3 separate regions of the Homo sapiens genome follow, and regions 2 and 3 are each linked to region 1. The links come from fine-mapping of genetic effects on gene expression. A gene starts in region 1. Each other region holds a variant in brackets. All regions are shown on one strand. Distances are between the middles of the regions.

Region 1 (8,178 bases):
TCACGTTAGACTGAAGTGTTTGGTCAGATTTCCTCAGTATGACAAAGGTTACTCTTTTTTTTTTTTTTTTTTTTTGAGATGGAGTCTCGCTCTGGCTCTGTCGCCCAGGCTGGAGTGCAGTGGTGTGATCTCGGCTCACTGCAAGCTCCACCTCCCGGGTTCATGTCGTTCTCCTGCCTCAGCTTCCCGAGTAGCTGGGACTACAGGCGCCCACCACCACGCCCGGCTAATTTTTGTATTTTTAGTAGAGACGGGTTTTCACCGTGTTAGCCAGGATGTTCTCGATCTCCTGACCTCATGATCCACCCGCTTCGGCCTCCCAAAGTGCTGGGATTACAGGCGTGAGCCACTGAGCCTACTTTCTTACCCAGGCTTCCAAAAAGGCTGGAGTTTCCACAGAGATTTATTACTATATGCATCTCATCAAAGGGCTAAGATACTTCTTGACTGTGTATATCAGTACCATGTGGCTGTTTTGGTTCATTTGTACATTTTTGGTTTGCAGTGACATGTCATCAAGGGCCTAAGAACAGAAATTCATTCTGTCTATGTTTTATGAGTTTAGGGGCCTGGAAAATTGCAAGCAACACCCATGCTTCAGGGAGGCCCCAGGACTCAGGAAAGGGGGCAGTCTGTGAGTCCTCCCAGTTTCCCAGCTAATCAATGAAGTGAACAGTGCAAGGCTGTGGAAAAGATGTTCTCTCTGACTTGGGACATGTATAATTTGTTGCACCTGAGACATGTGTAGGAGTTAATGTGGTCAGAGCTCAGAAGTTACAGATTTTGGAGTCATCAGCAAATAGTGATATCTGAAGCCCTGGGCGTGGAGGAGAACACCCAAAGATAAAGCATGTAGAATGAGAAAATAAGAGGGTTGAGGATAGAATGCCTGGAAACACCATAATTTAGGGGGCTGGCAGCAGACGAGGAACCGGCCAAGAACTAGAATAGGACAGCAGGCTGTCACATGGGCATCGTGGAGAGCAGCCTGCACAGTCAGCATTCTTAAATCCTACACACAGACAGAGGAGATGCGGATTGGAAACGGTCCCTTAGAAAGATCACTAGAAGGAAATACATAAAAATATCCACAGGTCTATTCCTGACTAGTGAGATGTCAGGTGGCTTATGTTCTTCTCTCACCATTCTTGCATCTTCCAAATTCTGTACAAGAAACATTAATTACATTTATATTAAAAAGCTATTAAAATATAAAACAAGGCTCTGATCAAGTCTAAAATATTTTATGAGAGCCTGATGAAAAGAGCAAGTAATTATTAATTCACAAGTATTTCAGTGCCTGTGTGCTGGGCACCATGCTAAAGATAAAACAATGAACAAGAGGACAGCTCTGTTGTTTGACAAAAAGGAGCGGAGGCTGGTTTGGCAAGGGAGGGATGTAGGGCTTGTGGGACACAATGGCAGGAGATGAGGCTGGAAAGGTCGTTTGGTGCCAGATTACAATGGACTTTATGTGTCTTGTCAAATAATATGGTCTTTATTCTGAAGGCTACAGAGAGGCTTTTGAGGGGGGCAGTGTTAGGTTTGGAATTGTGCTTTACCTGAAGTTAATTTTCGACTGGATTTTGGCAGTAGTGTGGCTGCTGGCCTGGGGGAGTCCAAGCAGGAGACCAGGAGCACAGGCAGCAGGCAAGTGCAGTAACTGAATGAAGGCAGTGCCCTGAGCACGGGCCAGGCCCAGAGATATTTAGGGGTAGCGTCAATAGGATATGACTGATTGGATGTATGTTGCACGAAGTAGGGCATTAAGAAAAAAAAGGAACAACAAACTTCTTCCTGCTTATCAAAGACCATAATGAGGGCAATGGCCTTTCCTGAAACACGTTCCTTGGGAAGTCAAGCATGAGCATCACAATAGTTTGGAAGCTATCTGCACCCAGCAAGTGAGTTTCCAGTTAGCCTCACGCATGGCAATAGGTGCTTAGGATGCAGGATGCAGGTTCGTGGCCCCGGCCCTGTCTGGCTCCCCTGAAATCACACCACAGAGGCAGCTGCCTTTCGTAAACACAAGGCAGGCAGTGTTAGCTGGTCCAACTAGACCTCATTCTTTCTTTCACCTGGGGCCTGTGCACGGAGGCTGCTGACATGAGTGGACTCCCACGTGTGTGGTGAACGAGAAGTTCAAAGTGACACTTTGCATTCTTCCCTTCTTCTCCACTCTCCTCTTCCCGCTCCAGGAAAAATAAAGGAAGATGATTGTTTTGGTACAGGAAAAAAAAAATGAATACTAGGTTTTTAACTTGTGTCCCGGGTTGGGTAAAGAATGACAACTATTCTATAGTTTGTATAGACTTTCCCTTAGTGGTCATTGCTATATGACATAAGAAAGTCAGTGCCTGGGCCAGGCACTGTCACAGGCCTGTAGTCCCAGCTACTTGGGAGGTTGAAGCAGGAGGATCGCTTAAGGCCAGGAGTTCAAGGTTACAGTAAGCTATGATAGCACAACCTGAGTGACAGAGCAAGACCCTCTCTTTTTTTTTTTTTTTTTTTTTTGAGACAGAGTTTCGCTCTTGTTGCCCAGGCTGGAGTGCAATGGCACAATCTCGGCTCACCACAACCTGCGCCTCCTGGGTTCAAGCAATTCTCCTGCCTCAGCCTCCCAAGTAGCTGGGATTAGAGGCATGCGCCACCAAACCTGGCTAATTTTGTATTTTTAGTAGAGATGGAGTTTCTCCATGTTGGTCAGGCTGGTCACAAACTCCCGACCTCAGGTGATCCTCCTGCCTTGGCCTCCCAAAATGCTGGGATTACAGGCATGAGCCACTGCACCCGGCCTACCCTGTCTCTTAAAAAAAAAAAAAAGTGAGTATTATAATAGAGGGGATAAGGAATAATGTGTATGTGAGGTCTATTTCTGAGACCAGAGCCACAAAACAGAATCCTGCACCTTAGCCATTTTCTTACCACACGCGTTTTCTTGGATACTTCCATTTTTCCAGTCTATATAATTCAATACTTCTGTGACAGAGAGGTGTTGGAGTTTTTTGTTTTGCTTTTGTTTTTTCGCAACTCTTTACATACAAACAGCTATGGTCTCCCAGGAAGGAACTTCCTCTGTTGAGTACAGAAGTCTGGGAAAAGACTGGTGAAATTGCATGCGAGGAAGAAACAGGTCTAACTAAATGTGAATCTATACTTTTAAAGCAAGGGACCACAAAGGGTAGGTCCCAAGGAAGTTGCATTGCTTGCTGCACTTGTCACACGGGCTGTACTTTCTTCTCTCATTTATTTCCATTTACAGCGTTGAAAACTGAGGCCTTAGGCTTTGGTTGAAAACCGAGGCCAAGGGTGACCAGCCAGTGAGTTAAGGAGGCCCCAGCCGAACTTTGCTGGAAGTGCTCCAGCATAAAGCCTCTCTCCAGAACCAGCCGCCACTGAGACGTCTTGAAGTCAAAGTAACTCACACCCTTGTCCACCTCGCCCTGCGGTGAAGAAACTTCGGTCGCACAGGCTCCAGAACTCATCTTGGCGTGGGCTGTGACTTACTGGGGGATGGGCCTCCTTTTCGTTCTAGCTCCTAAATGGAGCGGAGCGCCAGGTGGTGTCAGAGGGGGCGGCGGCCCCTCCAATGGTGGCACCCTCAGCCACGGATAAGGTTCCAATTAGGTAAGGACGCAAGTAATGCTGTCGTTTCGGCTGACTGCTCCTTTCATTCCTTGGAGGTGGTCGGTGTCACAAAACGAATTTTCATTTACTCTCAACAGTCACACCAGCCCTGCTAACTGGATGGTCGCAGCCCCGTGCCTTCGCCGGACGCCCTCCTGGAACCTTCAGGCCACCCTGAGGATGGAGACTCGGGTGCCCGCTCTCCTCCCCTACCGCCGCGGGCCTGCGCCCCCCGCCCCGGACCCCGACTCGGACGTTCTAGCCGCACGTGCGGGCGCCCCTGGGTGCGAGCCGCGGACTCACGAGCCGCTGCTTGTTGCTCCCGCCGCCGCGACCTGGGGAAGCGAAAATGAAATTGACTTTTCCGAGAAATGATGAAAGCGGCGCTGCCCGCCAATGAGCTGCTGCGGCGAACTTCCGCACCTCCCGGCCGGGCCGCTCGCGCCCTCCCTCCGCCTCCACCTCCCGGTTGCACAAGCTTGAAACAAACACTGGGGAGGAAGGGCGGAGGGAGGAGGGCGGAGAGGGGAGGCGAGGGAGGGAGCGCGGCCGGAGGAGGGCGGGGGGTGGGGGGATTTCCAGCCGCGGCTCTTCGCAGTTTCCTCTCCTTGTTTTGCTTTCGATCTGGACTGTTCTCAGGCAAGCCGGGGAGTAACTTTTAGTTTTGCTCCTGCGATTATTCAACTGACGGGCTTTCATTTCCATTTCACATACCCTAGCAACACTTATACCTTGCGGAATTGTATTGGTAGCGTGAAAAAAGCACACTGAGAGGTAACATTTTTCAAATAATAGTTGTGACTGTGTGTGTTTCTCTCGAGGGCATGTTTCTGGGGACTGTGGGGGGCCGTGTGTGTATGCGTGTCCTGATGCCTTGACACGATGTTTTGCAGACGGAAAATGCCGGGGTTCATAAATATTAATACTGATTTTTGGAGGAACAGTCGGCGCAATTATGGATCATCTGATTTTAGGGGAAGCAGGTTCTGCTGCTGTTGCTGCTGCTACTGGGGCTGCTGAGGCTGCGAGGAGGAGGAGGAGGAGGAGGTAGAGAGGGAGGAGGAGGAGGAGGTTGGTGGAGGTTTAATTTCACTTTTGGATTTGCAGATGCGGAGAGGTGGCTCCATGGACACAGACCTGCTGTGTGTGCTTCTGCGCCCCAGGTGTTGTGTGTGGGGGTGCAGGTCAGCTGGAGTCGGGCCTCATTTAAAACAAAATTGTGTGTATGTGCGTGTTTGTGTGTGCGCGCGTGTGTGTGTGTGCAGCCACCGCCGCCACCGGATCCGAAGGAGGGGAGCGGGTCCTTCTCGGTGCCCGCGGCGGCGCCTCTCCAGGCTGCCTCCAGCGTAAATAAGCAGGCACCGCTCCCCGGCCGGGAGGAGCGCCTCCAGCCACGGCCAGAGGAAACTTGCTGGGGCGCCCCGCGGCGGTCCAGGGGCTCGCCTGCCTGCCGGGCTCGGGGTCGGGTCGCGGGCGTCGGGTGCCAGCGGCCGGGGCGGGAGGGCGGGCTCGGAGCCGGGCCGGGCGCCGGGCCTGGCCGACGCGCCCTGCTTCCTGGGGGCTGGGCCGCCGCCGCCGCCGCTCAGAAGGGACGCCGCGTCCTCCTTCCCGCCGGCCAGCGCCCGGTCGGGCCCTGGGGCTTTGTCATTGCACTTGTCCCAGCGCGCCAGGGGCTCGGGCGGCGCGTCCCAGGAAGGCACCGTGCCGAGGGGTCAGCCGCCCGGGCCGCGGCCTAGCGCCGTGCGCCCCCGGGTCCCCGCAGGCGCCCCCGGCCGGCCTCGCGCGCTGGGCCTGACCCGCCTCGGCTACGGAGCGGGCGAGGTGGGGGCGGGGAGCCTCCGGGGACCGAGCGGCGCAGTGGGGGCCGGCGTCCCCTCGGGGTCCCGGGGCGCGGGCCGCGGCGGGGTGGGGACGCGAGTGCCCGCCCCGTGCCCTCCGACCCGGCTCCGGGCGCCGGGTGACATTCGCCCGCTGGCCGAACATGGTTGGTGCAAAGCCGCGGCGGCCGCCACTTCCTTTCCGCCTCGCCGGTAGGGCTCGCCCACCGAGTGAAGCCGGCCGCGGCCAATCGCGGCGCCCGCCTGCTCCCAGTGGCACGGCCTGGGGGCCGGCGTCCGCCGGGGCTGGGGAAGCCGTTCCAAGTTCCAAGGGTCGCGGGTGTAACTCATGCCCCTCCCAGCACGCGCCGGCGTCTCCCCTTGGCCCCCGGTCTGGGTGCGTTTGCCACCCTCTCCTCCTTGTTCCCTAAGAAGCGGGGGAGGGGAAGGAGGCGGGCAGCCTGGGCAGGGCGCCAGAGCCGTGGTCGGGCACCAGGTGAAACGCCCGGGTCAGTCTGTGTAGGCCGGACCCTTGGCGCTCGGCTGCGGATGTGATCCCGGGGACTGGCGGCCGAGGTAGCTCAGAAGAGCGAGGTGGCTTTCGCTCGTTTCTGACCCGCTACTGTCTGAAACTTGGGGACATATTGCCCGCCCCCTCCCTCTTCAACCTCCTCCCTCCGGTTGCTCCTTGTCCTTGGTTATGGAAGGAAAAAACTCAGTTGTTCTAAATGAGGAAAAGTGGTGCTGGCATTCGTCTTCAGCCACCGGCCTCCTTATGGCTGTGACTCGGTCTGCTTTTGATGAATGGCCAGGAGGTATGGAGGATAGTTAGATTTCCTGTTGTGGATTTTCAGGCATCACCGAGACTGCTGTCAAGCCTGCAGTCATTTACTAGTTTTCATATCGACTGCAGGTTCTCTTTGAGCAGTTCAGTTTTTGGTGCTTAAGGGCAGGTGCACAACGGGGTCTGGGGTTAGACCAGGCGGTGGATAGTCTTGATGCTAGGCAGATGCAGTTATCCCTACCAGGCCCAGAGGGTGACTCTGTTTAACTTCACCACGCACGCAGATTCAGGATTCTCTGATTTCCCCAACTTTCCTTTATTCTTCTTTTAGTGGGAGAAGGGGCAAAAGTAGAAACCTAAAAAATCCTGGGAAAAGGAGCCTTTTCTGAGGAAACTTCAGCAGATGAAATATTTAAGACTTGAACTGGGATCTCTAGGGGGAACGTTGGAACATCTATTGATTGATGTGTCAAAGTCCGGAATTTCACTGTAATTAGTGAACGATTATAACTTGTAACTTTGTCTGTTATGTAAGAAATTACATTTTGGTCTCTTAGATCCAAGAGTTCTTGTCTGTTACGATTTGTAACTGCTTGTTAAAATTAAACATTTACATATTTCATTCTCAGTGAGTTGTCATTTTTTTGTTAGAGAAAGTTCCAGTTATTTCAGATTTACTTACCTGTAAAAATGTCAGCATAATCAAAAGTAAGGATCTGTAGTCAAACTGGAAGCAAATTATGGCAAACACATGCGTGCCATGAAGTTCTGACAGCCTTATGAACAATGGTCCCACTTTTATCCCACTTTCTGAAACACTTTATTAGGCAAATAGTGCACCAGAGCAAAAGATGTTTAAACTTACTGGAAAAATAGACACTTTGGATGCTCCACATTTGATGTGCATCAATTTTCTCATGTTACCAACGATGTTATATTTTTATTCTTAACATCATCTCGTACAAAACTGTTGTTTTTAGAGCATTTTCACATAATATCCTTTTGATAGTGAAAAACCACTGTACTCTATCTAAATGGAGTATCTGGGTTATAGTTCCCTTATCTGCCTTATACCAAAAAGGGCTTAACGCAGACAAGAGAATTTATGTACACACTCAATAAATATCCTTAGAACATCTATTATAAGCCAGACACAGTGCTAGCCTCTGTATACTCAACTGACAGCGAGAAAGACAGCATCTTTACACTAGGTTGTGTTCTGGTGAGTGAGCTGACCATTAACAACAAAAAATATAGTTATTACCTTTTGGGGTTAGCTGTAAGGAGGATAATAATAATTTTTAACTATATCTCGTAAGTGTTGCTTTCATGAACAATTGAGATACTGTATATGAAAGAACATTGCATAAATTATGGCAGTCTACAAATGTGTAAGGCATTAACTTTCAAAATTATATCAGATTATTCTTAGTGTAAAAAGGCCAGATAATCATGACTGGATTAGACACTATCTTTCTCATAGAATTTCCAGCAAGGAGGGATTTTACTTCTGAGCATATATAAATAATGATAAAAGATTAAACATGGAATAACTTTTATATAAAGTATCAAAAAAATTTCACAGTGGAATCCGATATTGTCAGTGAATTTTTTCCTGTCAGAAGGAAAGTTAGGTGGTATCCATGGAGACCAAATGATATGGAAATAACAGTGATTGGACCAATGTATTTTCCCTCTTTATGTCAGATAAGAAAATCTTCCCAAGCCTCTCTGTGCTTTAGTCTGAATCTTCTTCACTCTCGTGTCAACTTCTTCATTATCTGTCATTGCAGGTGTGCACTGGGCTGATTGTAGTATTTTGCTTTTACCACCTTTTTTTTCTTTTCTTTTTTTTTTTTTTTGAGGCAGAGTCTTGCTCTGTTGCCCAGACTGGTGTACAGTGGCACACTTTCAGCTCACCGCAACCTCTGCTTCCAGGTTCAAGCAATT
Region 2 (8,178 bases), 140 kb after region 1:
CAAGCACCACCAGGCCTTATCTGCAATGCCTAGAGATTCAGATGGGTTCTTCTCTTCTTGAGGTCCTAAAAACATCCTGAGTTTCTTTGGCCTGCCAGAAAGTCACCTTCCTGACTCACCTGTAAGGCTGGGAACTCCATAATCCAGGTACCAGGCAGACTTTCCGGGAGGGCTTCATATGCATTGGCTCCATAAAGTTAACCTTAGTTCCTCAAAACTGTCTGTTCATATGTGATTTTATGTCTTATTCTCAGTTGGAAATGCAGAAATCACCTGTCTTCTGCGTCGATCAGGCTGGGAGCTGCAGACCGGAGCTGTTCCTATTCGGCCATCTTGGAATGGACCCCCATGTCTTATTCTCAAATAAAACATTTTGGTCAAAGCCTTGATTATCTAATCAATTTTTAAAATTATGTTCTGTTACAAAAAGGACAGATTCTTATCGAACCCATATAAAATAGTATATCACCATTGATACGGTTTGGATCTGTGTCCCCACTCAAATCTGATGTTCAATTGTAATCTCCCAGTGTTAGAGGTGAGGCCTAGGGGGAGGTGATTGGATCATGGGGACATTTTCTCATGAATGTTTTAGCACTGTCCCCTTGGTGCTGCTCTTGTGCTGGTCAGTGAGTTATCGTGAGATATGGTTGTTTAAAAGTGTGTAGCAGCTGGACATGGTGGCTCACACCTGTAATCCCAGCATTTTGGGAGGCCAAGGTGGGCAGATCACCTGAGGTCGGGAGTTCGAGACTAGCCTGACCAACATGGAGAAACCCCATCTCCACTAAAAATACAAAGTTAGCTGGGTGTGGTGGCGGGCGCCTGTAGTCCCAGTTACTCGGGAGGCTGAGGCCGGAGAATCGCTTGAACCCGGGAGGCCGAGGTTGCCGTGAGCCGAGATCGTGCCACTGCATTCCAGCCTGGGTAACAAGAGTGAAACTCCGTCTCAAAAAAAAAAAAAGAAAGTGTGTAGCACCTTCCCACTCTCTCTTTCTTCCTTCTGCTCTGAGTATGTGATGCGCCTCACTCTCCTTTTGCCTTCCACATGACCGGAAGTTTCCTGAGGTCTCCGGAGAAGCAGAAGCTGCCACGCTTCCTGTGCAGCCTGCAGAGCCGTGAGCCAATTAAACCTCTTTTCTTTATAAATTACCCAGTCTCAGGTATTTCTTTATGGCAAAGTGTGAACAGACTAATACAACCATGAACATAAAAATACTCAGTAATAGTTTCTGAATTATGGAAGGATTAGGAAAAAAGATAAATGTTCCATTTTTGTTATAGAAATGTATCTACTAAATTGTTACATATTATAGCTAACTTAAGAGAAAAAGAAAAGGGGTTCCTTATGTCCAGAAAATAGAACATTAAGAACAAGCAATGTTCCAAACAAAAAGCCATAAAAATTATACTCCTTCTTTAGTTGATTCAGTCCTATGTAATTAATTCTTGTTTTGCTTGATCATGGGTTAGCAGTTTCATGAACTCAACTAGAGTTTCGAAAACCCTCACTCAGTCCAGCAGTATGATATTCAAGTTTTTTAGGCCATGTCAGTATCAGATGGGGGCTGGGGAGGTTGATGGGTAGAAAATTATTAAGAGAAGTAATTACCAAGAAAAATATCAAGGGGAGGGGAATTCTTGCTAAACTGACTTTAACAGGATTCTTGCTGAAGGCAGACCAGTGTGGTCAGAGGTCAAGGTTGAGGGACTCTCACTAAATTGGCTTAGCAGGATCCCTGCTAAAACTGGACTAGGCAGGCTGAAGCCTGGGTCCAGGGATGAGTCCTGTTAAAAAGAGGGCTGAGAGGGGCCTTCTAAAGTTTGGTCACTGAGACTGTCTTTGTCAAGGGCCCTTCCTATGTAGTATTTATGACGGTATTTTGTCTGGCATTAATAGAGTTAATATTGTGTGCCTTTCACAGCAAATCAAAAAATATCAGAGCATTTAAGAGTATCAAGATATCATGTTGACCTTGGAACTGATAGCTTGAAGCAAAAAAATAAAAAAATTGCTGCTTAATTCCTCTGATAAGCTCTTGAAATAACTGAACTCTAACCCTGGTAACCGTCACCTACTTCACAAGGTTGATGGAAGGCACAGGTAAGAAGAGAAAGCCATAACTGTTTGAAGATGGGCAGATTCTGACCAAGACTCCAGACTGTAAGGCCAGGAAAGAGAGAGGGCTTTCCTAAGTCTTGAGCCCAGGTGTATGCCTGGATCCCCAGTCTGGGCTCTGGCAAGAGACAATCAAAGATCCCAGCAAAAATATTACACTGTTCCAATTCATGGTTAAAAATGTTGGCATAGGTAGTGGTATTTATCTCTGGGTTTTTAATTGACAACCAGGAGCAGCGAGTTAATATTGAAGAGCCCTATTCAGGAATGAATATACACACTCCAGGGGTGGTCTGTTGGAATTTGAAAGACTATTAAGAGGCTCCTCCTTTGGGAGGCCGAGGCAGGCAGATCAGGAGGTCAGGAGATCGAGACCATCCTGGCTAACATGGTGAAAACCCATCTCTACTAAAAATACAAAGAATTAGCTTGGTGTGGTGGCACACGCCTGTATTCCCAGCTACTCGGGAGACTGAGGCAGGAGAATCGCTTGAACCTGGGAGGTGGAGGTTGCAGTGAGCCGAGATCATATCACTGCACTCCAGCCTGGGCGACAGAGCTGGACTCGGTCTCAAAAAAAAAAAAAAAAAAAGAAGAAGCAGCTCCTGCTCTAGAGAGTCAGCTATAAGAACTTCCTCTATCCTCAATGAACACCAACAGCTTTGCTATCTGGCATAATGGATTTTAGGAGTCATTTTCATTGGTGAAGTAAGAGTTGTTCAAAATATTATGGGCTGACTGGAAGCACTGTATCAGATTGCATCTCCTTGCATAAACAGGGTATTATGACCTAGAAAGCCTAGTGGATAATGTATGCCCTTCCAAATGCTGTCTCTGGTTTGGGATTTGAATCAGGACTTGTATCCACAGCTCATAGAAAGGTTCCTGCACCTGACCCTGACTAGACATGAAGCTAAATCATGCTGTTCGAGTACTGTCACATCTGCCTTAAGTGAATCTGTTATGTAAGGCACCTGTCAGTGTGCCAGCAGAACAAAGCACCAGTACTTGGTTGAGTTTACAGAACTGGTTGTACCACGTTTTTGAGCCTGCTGGCTTCTAAATGTTTATTTTATGGCCGAATTCCGTCTGAGACTTGCTTTCATTGTAACATACCACCTGGTATGAAGCTGAGGAGACCTATAGCCCTCACCTACATCTATTATGGGCCCACATACATGTGTTTGTGTTTCTTAGCTTAGGGAGGTTTCAGAAGCCCCGAGGCTGGAGTAAAGCATGGTTACGGACTCTTGTTGTAGCAGAAATGTTGCTTACTGTCTTTCTATGACCCTTTGTATTTCTGTGTATTGGTTCTTCACCACTAATAATAAACCGCCTCAGTTCTTTTCTTAGAAGGACGTTGAACACTAACTATACGGCATTGAGCTAGGGATGAATTAAAGGGGAGCTCCCTGGAACTCCAGGAACTGTTTTCAAAATGTGCCTGTTTGTGTTTATATGGTAACGTTTGGCTGAATCCATTTCACCTTCTGAGTAACACTTAAGGCAAAGCTGAAATTCTTGCTGTCAACAAAACCCCCAAGACTACAATTTCTACCCAGCCTCTTTCAAAAAGCATGGAAAACCTCCTCCATTCCAGCTTATTTTTGCATTGAGGCTGGTATTTCATTTGTTTGTTCTTTCGCTTTCTTTAAGCACCACTGCCCAGCAGTGTGGCGTGAGTACTGCTTGCTTTCTGCTCCCAGTCTCACTTTTTTTTTTTTTTTTTTTTGAGACAGAGTTTTGCTTTGTCACCCAGGCTAGAGTGCAGTGGTGTGATCTTGGCTCACTGCAGCCTCCACCTCCTGGGTTCAAGTGATTCTCCTGCCTCAGCCTCCTGAGTAGCAGGGATTACAGGTGTGCACCACCACACCCAGCTAATTTTTGCATTTTTTGTAGAGATGAGGTTTCACCATGTTGGTCAAGCTGGCCTCAAACTCCTGACTTCAGGTGATCTGCCTGCCTCAGCCTCCCAAAGTGTTGGGATTATGGGCGTGAGCCACCTCGCCTGGCCCCAGTCTCTCATCTTTGTACCACACATATAACTTTGGTTTTGTAAGTAAGAAAATGCTTACTCCTTGCTGTTGACTACACTGTGAGATTCCTTTTGAGAACCCCACAAATAAAGTCAATACAACCATCAGGAATCCTTAGACTCATTAAAATTCCAGACCCTGTAAAAACAATATTTCCTGTTGAATCTCAACATGAACAAAGAGTGATCAACTGAGAGTCAAACGTGACTGTGGGATGAGTGAGTTTGGACATTAACCACATGATGTGTAGAGGAGGCACATCTCTTGTTGACACTCGCTTGTCCATGTGACACTTCTGCT[T/C]TCCTGACACGCACTCATGGATACCACGAGTGTGTGTGTCATGGGAAGTGCACGCCACCGAGCGGGCGCGGGGGCTGACCGGGCTGGGTCACTGCAGTGAAAAGTCATGTGGAAAAAGCTACCATTCATTTAATTGTTTTCACTTCTCACCTTGAACTCAGCTTTGTGACCACTCTGTGAAAACAAAACCAACACAGGTATCCTGCCACAGAATCGCCATGTGTTAAAAGATTCCACAGAGGTGTGACTGGACAGCAAACAGCGTTTTTCAGAGAGCTCCCTGTTAGTGGCAAAATGAACATTCCCTTAGGAGGGCAGATCCCTTTTCTCAAAAGGCCAGAGGATGGGGATGCGGAAGGGGGTTGACTGTCTGATTGGGATTTATGCCAGTGGAATGCAGCCAAGTTGTGCTTATAAAGGCCTTATTCTTCCTCAGGTCAGAGCAGTACTACTGGGAGAGCCAAGGCGCTTCTCTGGATGCACTCAACTACAGGGATCTTTCTTTTGTACATGCTTGAATATTTACCATTAGGTTTGATGTAGTGGAAAGACTCCTGGATTTGGAATCGGAAACTCTGAACGAGAAGACACTTATTTTGTCACGGTACGGGAGGAAATGTATCTTCCTTGCCCATCTCAGGTTCAGGGCTGAGGCCCATATAAGAAAAGACAGATTAAGAAGAGAAAAGTATACACATTTAGTTAATCTAAGTTTTACTTGACACGGGAACCTTCATAAGGAAATGACCCAGAGAAACAGTTCAGCCTGGCTTCTTTTGTACAACAGGTTTGACGAGAAGTGGCCAGGTGTGCGGAAACGTGATTGGGGAAAGAGTGTGGTCTGATGGGAATAAACTGGGGGAAACTGAGCAAGGCCTGTTTGTTCAGCTTCTTCTTTGTCTTCAGAAATAAGGATGTTCCCTTTCTCCGGGTCTAGGGAGGGCACCGCTCACAGGAGGGTCTTACGATGACCTGCTTCAGGAGAAGGTCAGAAAATCCTTCTTAGGTTTTACGACCTGATTCAGCAGGCAAGGTGAGGGGAAAGGTGAGAGGGAGCTTCTTGCACGTGCCATCTCTCAGATTCCTTCAGCTTAAGATATTCAGTGTGTCAAGGTACCACAGTTTGGGGTAGCATGTCCTGAACCCTGTCATTACTTAACCATTCTGAGCCTAGAGCTGTCTTTTGTAAAATGCAGATAATATCCCACGCCTTACAGGACAGTTCAATCAGAGGAATAAATAAAAGTGCCTATGCAGGTACCTGGAGCATAGTACATGCTCAATAAATGTTTTTGCTCTCAATCTAATTTTAAAATTAATTATATCGGTGTAATCCTTCCATAGCTCTTATTTAATTTTTATGTTTGACTCCCCAAGGAGGTTGTAAATACATCCTAGAGGGAAGGGACCTTAGATTATCTTTTTATGAAAAGTCAACAGCAGTAAGTGAAAGAAATCACTGTACATTAAATTTTTTTGTCAAATGAATGTCACTGCTTTCTAAAAGTACTTAAAAAACACTGATATTATGCAACTTCCTCCTAGCTCTGGAGACATCCTGGAGGTTACCCTTATGACTCAACTAAGAAAGCCCCTCAGGACTGAGGATGGGACAACTGGGATGTAATTGGGAATTGAGGGGGTGATGGAGAGATCCACTCTCCATACTGTTCTCTAGGAACAGCGGGGACACACCTGCTGCTCTTGTTCATCAGCTCGTCAGCCATCAGGCTGCCCCTTTGCTCTTGCTTTTAATACACTAGCACCTGTGCAGGAAAACAGAAGAAAAGAACACACATTCTTCAGGCCTTTGTGATCCCTCCTGTGTTCATTCGAGTGAACTAGAGAACCAGAGCTGGGAAAACCCCCATGGCGATGCATGCAAAGACATGCACACAGGTGACTCCTGTCTGGGTACTAGCTGGAACAACAAACACTATGCTATACGTTCTCTGAGGTCCACGTGGTTGAACTTGAGTCTGAGAAAGCATCTTGTCTGATGGGTTCACCCAGAAGCATCTCAGGTCAGGACAGAAAAATCCTGACATCAGGAGCATCCATGCTGCTTTGCCTTGACCAACCGGTCACCCTGAGTGTGATGGAAACTAGATTTACTCTGGCTATTGAGGCATGGTCTTTCTCTTGCTCTCTTTAATAGAACTTCCTTCTTTCACTAACAATGAGGTTGAGAAAGTATGTTGAGGCTTAAATATTTCAACAAGACGGAGCGCCAAAAGCCAGGAGCTTCCCAGTATTTCTGAAGCTCTTTCCGCTTTTCCAGAATCAACCCCCTTTTTCTATTTACTGTCATCCATTAAAATATAATGCTCTGTCAACACCACTGTTTCTGTTTTGAATCTTCCAAGCCTGGGTTTGGTAAACAGTTTTCAATTCATTGACTGTTAATCATTCATTTATCTGCATGTTCAATGACACCAGCATTTGCTGTGTTCTTCCTATGTGCTGGTCGCCGGGTTTTACAGATGAACAAAATGAAGCTCAGAGGATAATCACTTCTCCAGTGGCAGCTGCTAAGCAGCAGAGCTGGGATTTGAAAGAAGCTACTCAGGCTTTAAGTCCCATGTATTTTATTCAATACACCTAATTTCAACATCTAGCAAAAATAGAAAACTGATGATAATCTACCTGTAATTATGGATACTTTCATTCTTTTTTTATTTTAATTTTTTTTGAGGCAGAGTCTTGCTCTGTGGCCCAGCCTGGAGTGGAGTGGTATGGTCTCGGCTTACTGCAACCTCTGCCTCCTGGGTTTGAGCAATTCTCCTGCCTCAGCCTCCTGAGTACTGGGACTACATGCATGTGCTACCACACCTAGCTAATTTTTGTATTTTTAGTAGAGACGGGGTTTTGCCACTTTGGCCAGGCTGGTCTCAAACTCCTGACCTTAGGTGATCTGCCTGCCTTGGCCTTCCAAAGTGCTGGGATTACAGGAGTGAGCCACTGCACCTGGCCTATCCTTTCACTCTTAAAGGAACTTTTCCAGCTATTCCACCCAACTGGCTGCCAGCGTTACCTTCCTAAATAACTTTGCCTTTATCATCTCTAGGTCAACATACCATCAGTTCAGGAGGAAAAAAATAGGTTTGAGATTAGAGATTGGGAATATTGGTTCAGACGCCAATTCTTAATTGCAAGATCTCCTATACTTTTAATTATACTTGTAGGGGAGGAAAAACATTTGTTCTCTGCTCTCCTGTGTTCAGTGGTTGGGGGCCCCAGGAATTAAATTCACACAAGACAGACTACCAAGAGAGAATAACAGATACAATTATGTATGCTGGCACAGGAATTCACAACGAAATGTGATTCGAAGAGGCATTTAGAATTTGGAGCTTATATAAACCATCTTAGGCTGGACAAAGGAAAGGGGATTTTGGGCTTCTGAGATGGGAGGTAAGTTATGGGAAGGTGAAGGGAGAAAATGTATAATAAACAAGTGTTGTTTAATAACGTTTGTTAGGCAGATAAGAGTCGCCTCAGGTGCTAAAAGTTGTCTCTGGAGTATTTCTCTTCCTGGTATGGGAAAGGGAGACACCCTTACAAATGGAAATTTATGTCCTGTTTTTAGACAGAATAGGGGATGGCAGACAGCGAATTGCCTTCAGCTCAAAACAATTCTTACGCCAAAGTGGCATATTTGGGGGTGGCACATTCTATTTCCCATTATACCCAAGATGCATGAATCTGAAGCCCTACTTTTTT
Region 3 (8,178 bases), 86 kb after region 1:
GCACGAGGGTTCTCTGAGGAGGGGAATTTTCTTTTTCTGTTGGTTTTCATGTGTTTCTGCGTGGAAACAATTCTTGTGCTCGGCAACGTCAGCTCATCTTCATAGCTGGGATCGTCGTCAGCTGAGGCTGAGGGCTTCTCTGGGTCTCTGTGGCTCCCAGCACGGGGTGTTTTGGGGAAACATGCCCAGTCCGAGGAGTGGAGAGATCTGTCTTCTGCATGCTCATGGCCAGCCCACCGCGATCACTCAGGTTTGTGTGAAGTTACTGGAGAACAGTGGCTGAGAAACAGGCCCAGAGACTCCAGGCTGGGACCAGTGGAGTCCACATTCTTACTTTCCTTGTTTAAGGAATGCACCTGTGGCACAGTTTGTCCATTTGTTCTTTTGCCTTTAATTGATAGAGAGCCTGGTCTGGGGCTAATGCTCTCAGTGGAAGAAAGGGCTCTGTCTGGGCTGGAGCCATCTCATCCCAGCTCTGCCACCAGGAAGATGTGAGACAGAGGCCAGCCCCTCAGCAGGGACCGGGTGGAAAGCTGGAAGGCACTGGAGCATAAGAGCTCTTCTGCGTAACGGGGGATGAGAGCAGCTGCTTGCTGACGTGGGACCCCTGTGAGACCTGCATGCAAAGCCTCTGACATGGCACTGACCCATAGGGCTCCCTAAATGTTTGCTTCTTTTAGAACACGAGCTTCACTTTTGGATTTTCTTGTGTTGTGAAATATACGTCACCTAAAATTTACCATACTTTTGGGTATGGGGTTATTAAATTCAGCATTGGAACTAAATAGGAGGAAAGGCAGTTAAAGGTTGCCATCAGGAAGAGAAGCTATTGCAGTTACTCTTTAGGCCTTGTCTGTAAAACGAATGGCTCAGGCTAAGTGATCTCTAAATGCCTAAATATTGCACAGGCTCTGCCCTCTGTGATTGCATTTCTCAATGGTTATGGACACTGGAATAATCGCACACCATTGATATTTTATTTTACAAAATCAAAATGTTTTTACGTTTAAAAAGCTTTTTATAAGCATAGGTCATGTGTAATCACTAGACTTCGATTCCATTAATCCAGCCTGTTGTGCAAACCCAGTGTTAAGCAGTGCTGATGTATGGAGTGTGTGCTGTGTGCCAGGCCCTTGCTAGGCCTTTCCCATGTACCCTCTCACTCACTCTCCATGTAATCCTCTTAGATGGTGGCAGTGCCCTCATTTTACAGAGGAGAAAACTGCAGCTCAGTAAAGGTGAGAAACTTGCCCAGTGTCTCACAGCTGGCAGGCCAAATGGGGATGGCAACTGATTGGCTGCCATAGCCATGCAGCCACAAACTTAGTGGCTTGAAGCGACACACATTTGGATCTTACAGTTTCTTTGAGTCACGAATCCAGGCGTGGCTTAGCTGGGTCCTCTGCTGCAGAGTCTTGCAAACCTGCCATGGAGGTGTTGGCTACAGCTGCTGTCTCATCTGAGGCTCAACTGGGGAAGGGTCCATTTCCAAGCTCATGTGGTTTTGGCAAAATTAAGTTTCTTGCAGGTTGTTGGACTAAGGGCCTCAGTCTCTTGCTGGCTGTTGGCTGGAAGCAGTCCTTAGTTCTTTGCCATAGGAGCCTTCCCAACATGGTTGCTTGCTTTATCAAGGCCAGCAAGGCAGAGTGTTTCCTCTCCCAGCAGGTTTCTGAGTTATGTAACATGATCATGGACACAGGATCACATCCATTTCATCCCCTTTGCTGTATCTTATTTGTTAGAAGCAGACACATTCCATCCACACTCAAGGGAGGCAATCCCAAAGAAAGTGAATCCAAGGAGGTGAGGATCATGGGGAGCACCCCAGATCTGTCCACCTACAGTAACCCACATGGCAGATGCAACTCTAGAAATCCAGGATCTAAGTCCTAAAGGGGTGAGAGGTAAAGGAAGGATCTGAGTGGGATGGGGATAATGTAGGAAGACCTTTTGGAAACGGTCAACTCTGCACTGGGAATTAAATGAATTGGTTGGCATGGATTGAAAGACAGGACCCATGTGGGCATTGTGGACAGAGCTGCAGTGAGGAGGGCCCCAGGGACCAGCGCCCCTTCCTGGGAGGTAGTGCCCAGTGTATACACAGCCCGGCCCTGGCCAAGGGAGCCTCCTCACAGCTCTCAAGCCTGGTTTCTCCGAAGATTACAGAGTTGAAATTCACTCTAGCTTCTCCCATGTAGAATGTTTCGCTTTACAAAGGGAGGGAGGTGATGCGTTTAGTTACTCAGTCTCCTTTTTATAAACACTGCCTGAGCCTGGGGACAGCTTGAGGGACAGGAATGATGGCCCTGTGTTTTTCTCTCTGTGAACAGAAAGCGAAACGACTGATAGTGTGCCCAGCGATGAAGAGAGTGCCGAGGTAAGCCACTGCCCAGCCTGCCCACGATGCTGCCAAGGAAAAGCCTCCCGACCAGCTCCGGGCTTTCCTTGCTGCTGGTTATGCACCTTTCCTTTAGATCACAAGCTTCACTTTGGGATTTTCTTGTGTGGTGAAATATGCATCACCAGAATTTACCATACTTTTGGGTTTGGGGTTATAAAATTCGGCGTTGGAACTGAAAGGAGGAAAGGGAGTTAAATGTTACCATCAGGTAGAGAAGCTGTGATAGCAGGAAAAGGGAATTGAAGTGGAGGCTGGGAAATGCCGATGCTCTTACCACTTAAACATCCTACTTCACCGGCAAAAATAGAGCAGCCTTCCCAGCCAAAAGCAGTGACCAGTACACGTCACAAAATGCTAAGCAAAAGCCTCTTCCACGTGTGCGTGGGTTCCCTCCCGCTGTGACCCGTGCCCAGAGCTGGTTGTGTGCCCCATCTCGATTCCGAGTGGGTCCCGTCCCCTCTCCCTCCCATAGATGGGGCGTGCACAATGGCAGAAAGTGGCTGGAATGGAGATGGAAAGCATTCCTGCTGGCCACCTGCTGGGGGTCTGCGCTTGAGTGAATGAGAGAGAGAGAGGGAGGGAGCAAGAGAGAGGGAAGCTCATGGTTGTTTGAATTAGTGGTTTCCCATGTACTAAACACTTTGAGAAAAAGTGCAGGGATTCTGAAAAGACAGATGTACACGCTCCCATACACCCTGGCCTGATTTCTTCAAGGTTGCAGCTCTAGCCACTTCTCTGAATGAAGCCAGCCCTGAGGCCGCTGCTTGCTGTACACCGTGGAGCTCTAAGCCGCCCCCATTTGAAAGCAATCAAGGGGCATTCATTGCCTGTCACTAAGTTCCTCGCTGCCTTTTCTCTGAAAATGCAGGTTGGCTCAGGTTGACTGGGCCAGCATTGAGGGACCGAGTCGCTGTGCCACACTGGCCATGGTGACCTGAAACCTATCGAATAATCGGGCCGAGCCGCAGAGCACAAGGGAACCAGAAACCAAGCTGCTGCCTTCTTTTCCTGCCTTCACAGAGTAGTCTGGAAAGTATTTCTGGGAGGTAGCAAATGGGAATTGATTTTTTAAAAAAAAAGAAAAGGGAAGAAAAACCATTACTTGGCATATGAATAGCTGGGTGCAATAGATTTCAGTTGAGGGATGTAGAGGTGCTAAGCCTTTGTTCATTCTGCAGTTCTTAAGAAACTCAGCTAAAGCACCAACACATGGGAACGACACATTTTTCATTTTAAAATTTTTTTTGTGGGTTGTTGTTTTGAGACAAGGTCTCATTCTGTTGCCCTGGCTGGAGTGCAGTGGCGCAATCATAGCTGACTGAGGCCTTGACTTACTGCGCTCCAGTGATCCTCCCGCCTCAGCCTCCCGAGTTGCTGGGGCTAAAGGTGTGCACCACCATGCCTAGCTAATTCTTACGTTTTGTAGAGATGAGGACTCGCTACATTGCCCAGGCTGGTCTCAAACTCCTGAGGTTAAGTGATCCTCCAGCCTCAGCCTCCCAAAGTGCTGGGATTACAGGCATGAGCCACCACACCTGGCCAGTGATGCATTTTTAAAAAGCCATCCAATAGAAGGAGAAGGAAATACATATCTTAATTACTTTCTTGAAAGGGGCGGCCACACTGGCGGAAGAGGAATATTGAAGGCAAACAGTACCTCAGCAACATGGGGACTCGAGGCTCCTACCTGCTGCCCGGCATGGCGTCCTTCGTCACTTCCAACAAACCGGACCTCCAGGTCACCATCAAAGAGGAGAGCAATCCGGTGCCTTACAACAGCTCCTGGCCCCCTTTTCAAGACCTCCCCCTTTCTTCCTCCATGACCCCAGCATCCAGCAGCAGTCGGCCAGACCGGGAGACCCGGGCCAGCGTCATCAAGAAAACATCGGATATCACCCAGGCCCGCGTCAAGAGCTGTTAAGCCTCTGACTCTCCGCGGTGGTTGTTGGGGCTTCTTGGCTTTGTTTTGTTGTTTGTTTGTATTTTATTTTTTTCTCTCTGACACCTATTTTAGACAAATCTAAGGGAAAAAGCCTTGACAATAGAACATTGATTGCTGTGTCCAACTCCAGTACTGGAGCTTCTCTTTAACTCAGGACTCCAGCCCATTGGTAGACGTGTGTTTCTAGAGCCTGCTGGATCTCCCAGGGCTACTCACTCAAGTTCAAGGACCAACAAGGGCAGTGGAGGTGCTGCATTGCCTGCGGTCAAGGCCAGCAAGGTGGAGTGGATGCCTCAGAACGGACGAGATAATGTGAACTAGCTGGAATTTTTTATTCTTGTGAATATGTACATAGGCAGCACTAGCGACATTGCAGTCTGCTTCTGCACCTTATCTTAAAGCACTTACAGATAGGCCTTCTTGTGATCTTGCTCTATCTCACAGCACACTCAGCACCCCCTTCTCTGCCCATTCCCCAGCCTCTCTTCCTATCCCATCCCATCCCATCCCATCCCATCCCATCCC[ATCCCG/G]CTCTTTTCCTACTTTTCCTTCCCTCAAAGCTTCCATTCCACATCCGGAGGAGAAGAAGGAAATGAATTTCTCTACAGATGTCCCATTTTCAGACTGCTTTAAAAAAAATCCTTCTAATCTGCTATGCTTGAATGCCACGCGGTACAAAGGAAAAAGTATCATGGAAATATTATGCAAATTCCCAGATTTGAAGACAAAAATACTCTAATTCTAACCAGAGCAAGCTTTTTTATTTTTTATACAGGGGAATATTTTATTCAAGGTAAAATTCTAAATAAAATATAATTGTTTTTTATCTTTTCTACAGCAAATTTATAATTTTAAGATTCCTTTTCTTGTTTATCAGCAGTTGTTATTACATCCTTGTGGCACATTTTTTTTTTTAATTTTGTAAAGGTGAAAAAAGCTTTTATGAGCTCATGTAGCAATCAGATTTTCCTGTGGATTGATAATAAATGAATATGATATATAGTTAAATTTTTAAGGGGCATCACTCCTGGCTTTGTCTGTGTCTGCTTTAAAAGAGCATAATCACGGAATAGGACTGACAAAGGATTGTTTCTTTTTGGGGACCAAAATGTTTTCCCTTGTTGACCACAAGAAACCGTGGAGGTTCTTACTGTGAGGCTTCAGTTGACTTCTTCTCTTGAGTGCTCGCCTGAGCAGGGGCCCGTGCTGAGCGTTTTGCATGACTTCCCGTCTTCATTCATCACACTTGTGCTGTAGAATAGGCATTCATCTCCATTTCATGTGGAGGAAATGAAGACTGAATGTGAAGATGCCTTTACTTGGCTCATAGTGGCACTAAGAGGCAAGGGCACAAGTTGGGCACAAGTTGAGCCCAATTCTCTGTGCTATGAAGGGGGTCTTTTTTCTTGTAAGCATATCCGTTATCTCAAATGTCTGTCTTCCTCTGTGTTGGGAGCATTCCCTGTGGAGGGGGAGTATTTTAGCCACGCCACTGGTTTCCTTCTCTGCTGTGAGCAAGGTTCACCCCACTCTGTGTCTTTCCTGTTTTCATCCTTAGGCTTACACGTACGACAAACGTCTTGTGTTTATGTCACTTAGAGGGGTGCATGGATAAGACATTTTCCACAACAGGAAATATGTATTGGGCTCTAACACCATGTCCGTCACTCGTCTTTCTAGGACCCGAGGCCTTACACATAGACCGTGCCCTCAAAACTTGGGGTCTGTCTTGTGGAATAAAAGGGGTGACTTCAAGAACACCAGTCTTTATCAGCCACTTGGTGTTTGAAGGTATAGTCTTGGCCTGGAGAAAGCCACAGCACCAGCCTCCCCTGCATCCCCAGTATCTTACTCTGTAAAATCAGAATATGAAAACTTTGCTACCCGCCTACTACCTCTGGGGGGTTGTGGAGGAGATTGCTAAGTTAATATTTGAAGAGGTTCCTTTAATGAAAGGACAAAAGGCTATTTTTATGCCTATCTCCATGTGTGGCTGCAGATATAATTAGCGGTCATAAAGTTATCCAGCCCTGAATGGAAATCAACTGGAGCATTTTCCTGGCGGATGCGTTGTAGTTGAAATGCCACACACAGAGGCGGGGCTGCTTCTGGAAGGAGCACTTTCGTTGACTGTCTCAGTTTCTCAGTGGAAGGGGAGTTATCAGGAAGAAACAGATGCTCCCTGGCTCCTTGGCACCCGACTTTTCAGTTAAGACCTGCTCTTCCCCCAGGTCCTGAATGGAGAAGTTCAGTTCTTTGAGACTTACATCTAAAATGTTTTACTGAGTCATCCTATTTTAAATAAATTAACAAAACAGCAACGGAAGGTTGCCCTGAGTCACGTGGCCTGGTTATCAAAGGGTTTAAGGTAGCTCAGGTCTCCTCCCCCTTCCTTCTTCCCAACACAGACTCAGGGCTTCTTCCTGCATCTCGGTCCCGAATGCCATTCCTGCTGCCCTCCCCTTGCTTCTGTAGCGTAACTAGACTTCCCAAGGCCCATCAAGTGGAAGAAAATTCAGGACTTGGAAATGCACCATTTAAGTTCCAGAGATGATACTCCATTGCCAATAAGGCCATGAAAAACAGAATCATGTTTAAAATCCTTCTGAGAAAGCCTGTATTGTTTCTAAGTGATACTTGCCAGCAACGCAGGAAAACAAGCTAGTCTCAGGATGCCTGGGGTTGACATGGGGAAGGAAAACAAAGGCATTGGGGCAGCTCCTGGACCCAAGCCTCAGACCTTGTCGTCACTTAGAGGAAGTGCCAGGGACGCATGCTTCTGGTTGGTATTTGTGTGAGCTGATAGGCTTTGATGATGGGCTTGGGTGTGTGTGTGCACGTATGCGTTTAATAGCAAGTTCAAGTTCAGTGTAACTGCCTTTGGAACAATAGTTTCCATTCTCTGCAGCCAGTACCTGGGTCACTCCCTTGATAATGGGCTCACTGTACAGCTGTGAACTGTGAATTCAGGGACATGTATTTCTGCCCAGCCTTGAGGTTGCAAGCACCCAGCACATCCACACACCTCGATGAAAGGGGCTTCTGGAATGCCATTTGCACATCTAAATAAATCCACCCTCAACCGTACTGTTTTGTCCGTGTTTTGATGAACCACTGCCAAAGGTGGTATTTAGTCTATTTCAAAGGATTTGTAAAAAAGAAATACACATGGCTATGGAATACAAATTCTTTGGACATCAAAACCCTAAAACAATACCCTTTCCCCACCCAAATCCCAAGTGTACCGTACTATCATGTAACCACTACTGAGACAGAGATTTTAGAAGTGAAGGAGATGAGTGATTTGATTTCAGGAGTCTGAGTTTTCAAACTTGTGCTTTTGGAAGTGCTTTGCATGTGAATGGAAAGATGGTAAGCCCCAGCTGGCCTCCTGCCCCTAATTCAGAGAGATGGAACATGAGACGTTCCTTCTGCTTGAGGCCACTCTGTAACCTGCGTTCATTAGGCTTTAAAGGCCCCCTGCTATTGTAGTTTTGGACAAATAAGCCCAGATAAAAGGTTAAAAAAAAAAGAACCCCCACTATTCTGCCAGATTTCTCCTGATAAAAGACAAAAGCTAGGGAAAGGTTTACACACAGGTAGCCAAGATGAGTTCATTGGCATTCAGGGGTCAAACAGCTAATGTCTGAGTGCCAGTTTGGTTTGGAGGCACAAACTGGTTTTTACATGGTGCCGTTCAGCCGCCTACCTCACCCTGAAACTCCATCCCACAGTACAATGACGTGCCTGGGGCCAGAGTTATCAGAGCAGGTGGGACGTGACTCTGACCTCCCTCTGTCCCCAGGCTGCAGTGGACCCCTCCCAAGGGCAGTTG

Direction of the effects. Alleles are on the strand shown, and positions count from the first base shown. SD is a standard deviation of normalised expression in the study named.
As copies of T replace C in region 2, the expression in monocytes after LPS of the gene that starts at base 4,230 in region 1 goes up (large effect, 1.1 SD a copy in Quach 2016).
With allele ATCCCG in place of G in region 3, the expression in NK cells of the gene that starts at base 4,230 in region 1 is lower (moderate effect, 0.45 SD a copy in Gilchrist 2021).

What was found. PIP is the estimated chance that this variant, and not a neighbour inherited with it, causes the effect.
Region 2: its variant is fine-mapped to the expression of IRF2 in monocytes after LPS (Quach 2016, PIP 0.95). The same link has a PIP of 0.9 or more in monocytes, monocytes after R848 and monocytes after interferon gamma.
Region 3: its variant is fine-mapped to the expression of IRF2 in NK cells (Gilchrist 2021, PIP 0.95).

Annotation. Positions count from the first base shown.
Region 1 is chr4:184,470,602-184,478,779 of GRCh38, reverse strand. It overlaps IRF2 (interferon regulatory factor 2), which reads left to right and starts at 4,230. Exons shown (of 9, transcript NM_002199.4): 1 at 4,230-4,401. IRF2-DT (IRF2 divergent transcript) reads right to left here and starts at 3,978. Exons shown (of 1, transcript NR_186573.1): 1 at 1,476-3,978. RefSeq lists enhancers at 3,192-3,521, 3,872-4,061 and silencers at 4,092-4,211, 5,022-5,071, 5,152-5,841, 5,902-5,971.
Region 2 is chr4:184,326,496-184,334,673 of GRCh38, reverse strand. No RefSeq gene overlaps it. Among named protein-coding and RNA genes, the nearest start is that of MYL12BP2, 16 kb to the right of the region's middle. RefSeq lists an enhancer at 6,110-6,669. The variant T/C (reference allele first, on the strand shown) is at 4,456.
Region 3 is chr4:184,384,902-184,393,079 of GRCh38, reverse strand. IRF2 (interferon regulatory factor 2) reads left to right here. Exons shown (of 9, transcript NM_002199.4): 8 at 2,331-2,377; 9 at 4,014-5,351. The coding sequence ends at 4,322. Among named protein-coding and RNA genes, the nearest start is that of LINC02362, 6.7 kb to the right of the region's middle. RefSeq lists enhancers at 2,476-3,209, 3,210-3,943, 5,949-6,707. The variant ATCCCG/G (reference allele first, on the strand shown) is at 4,869.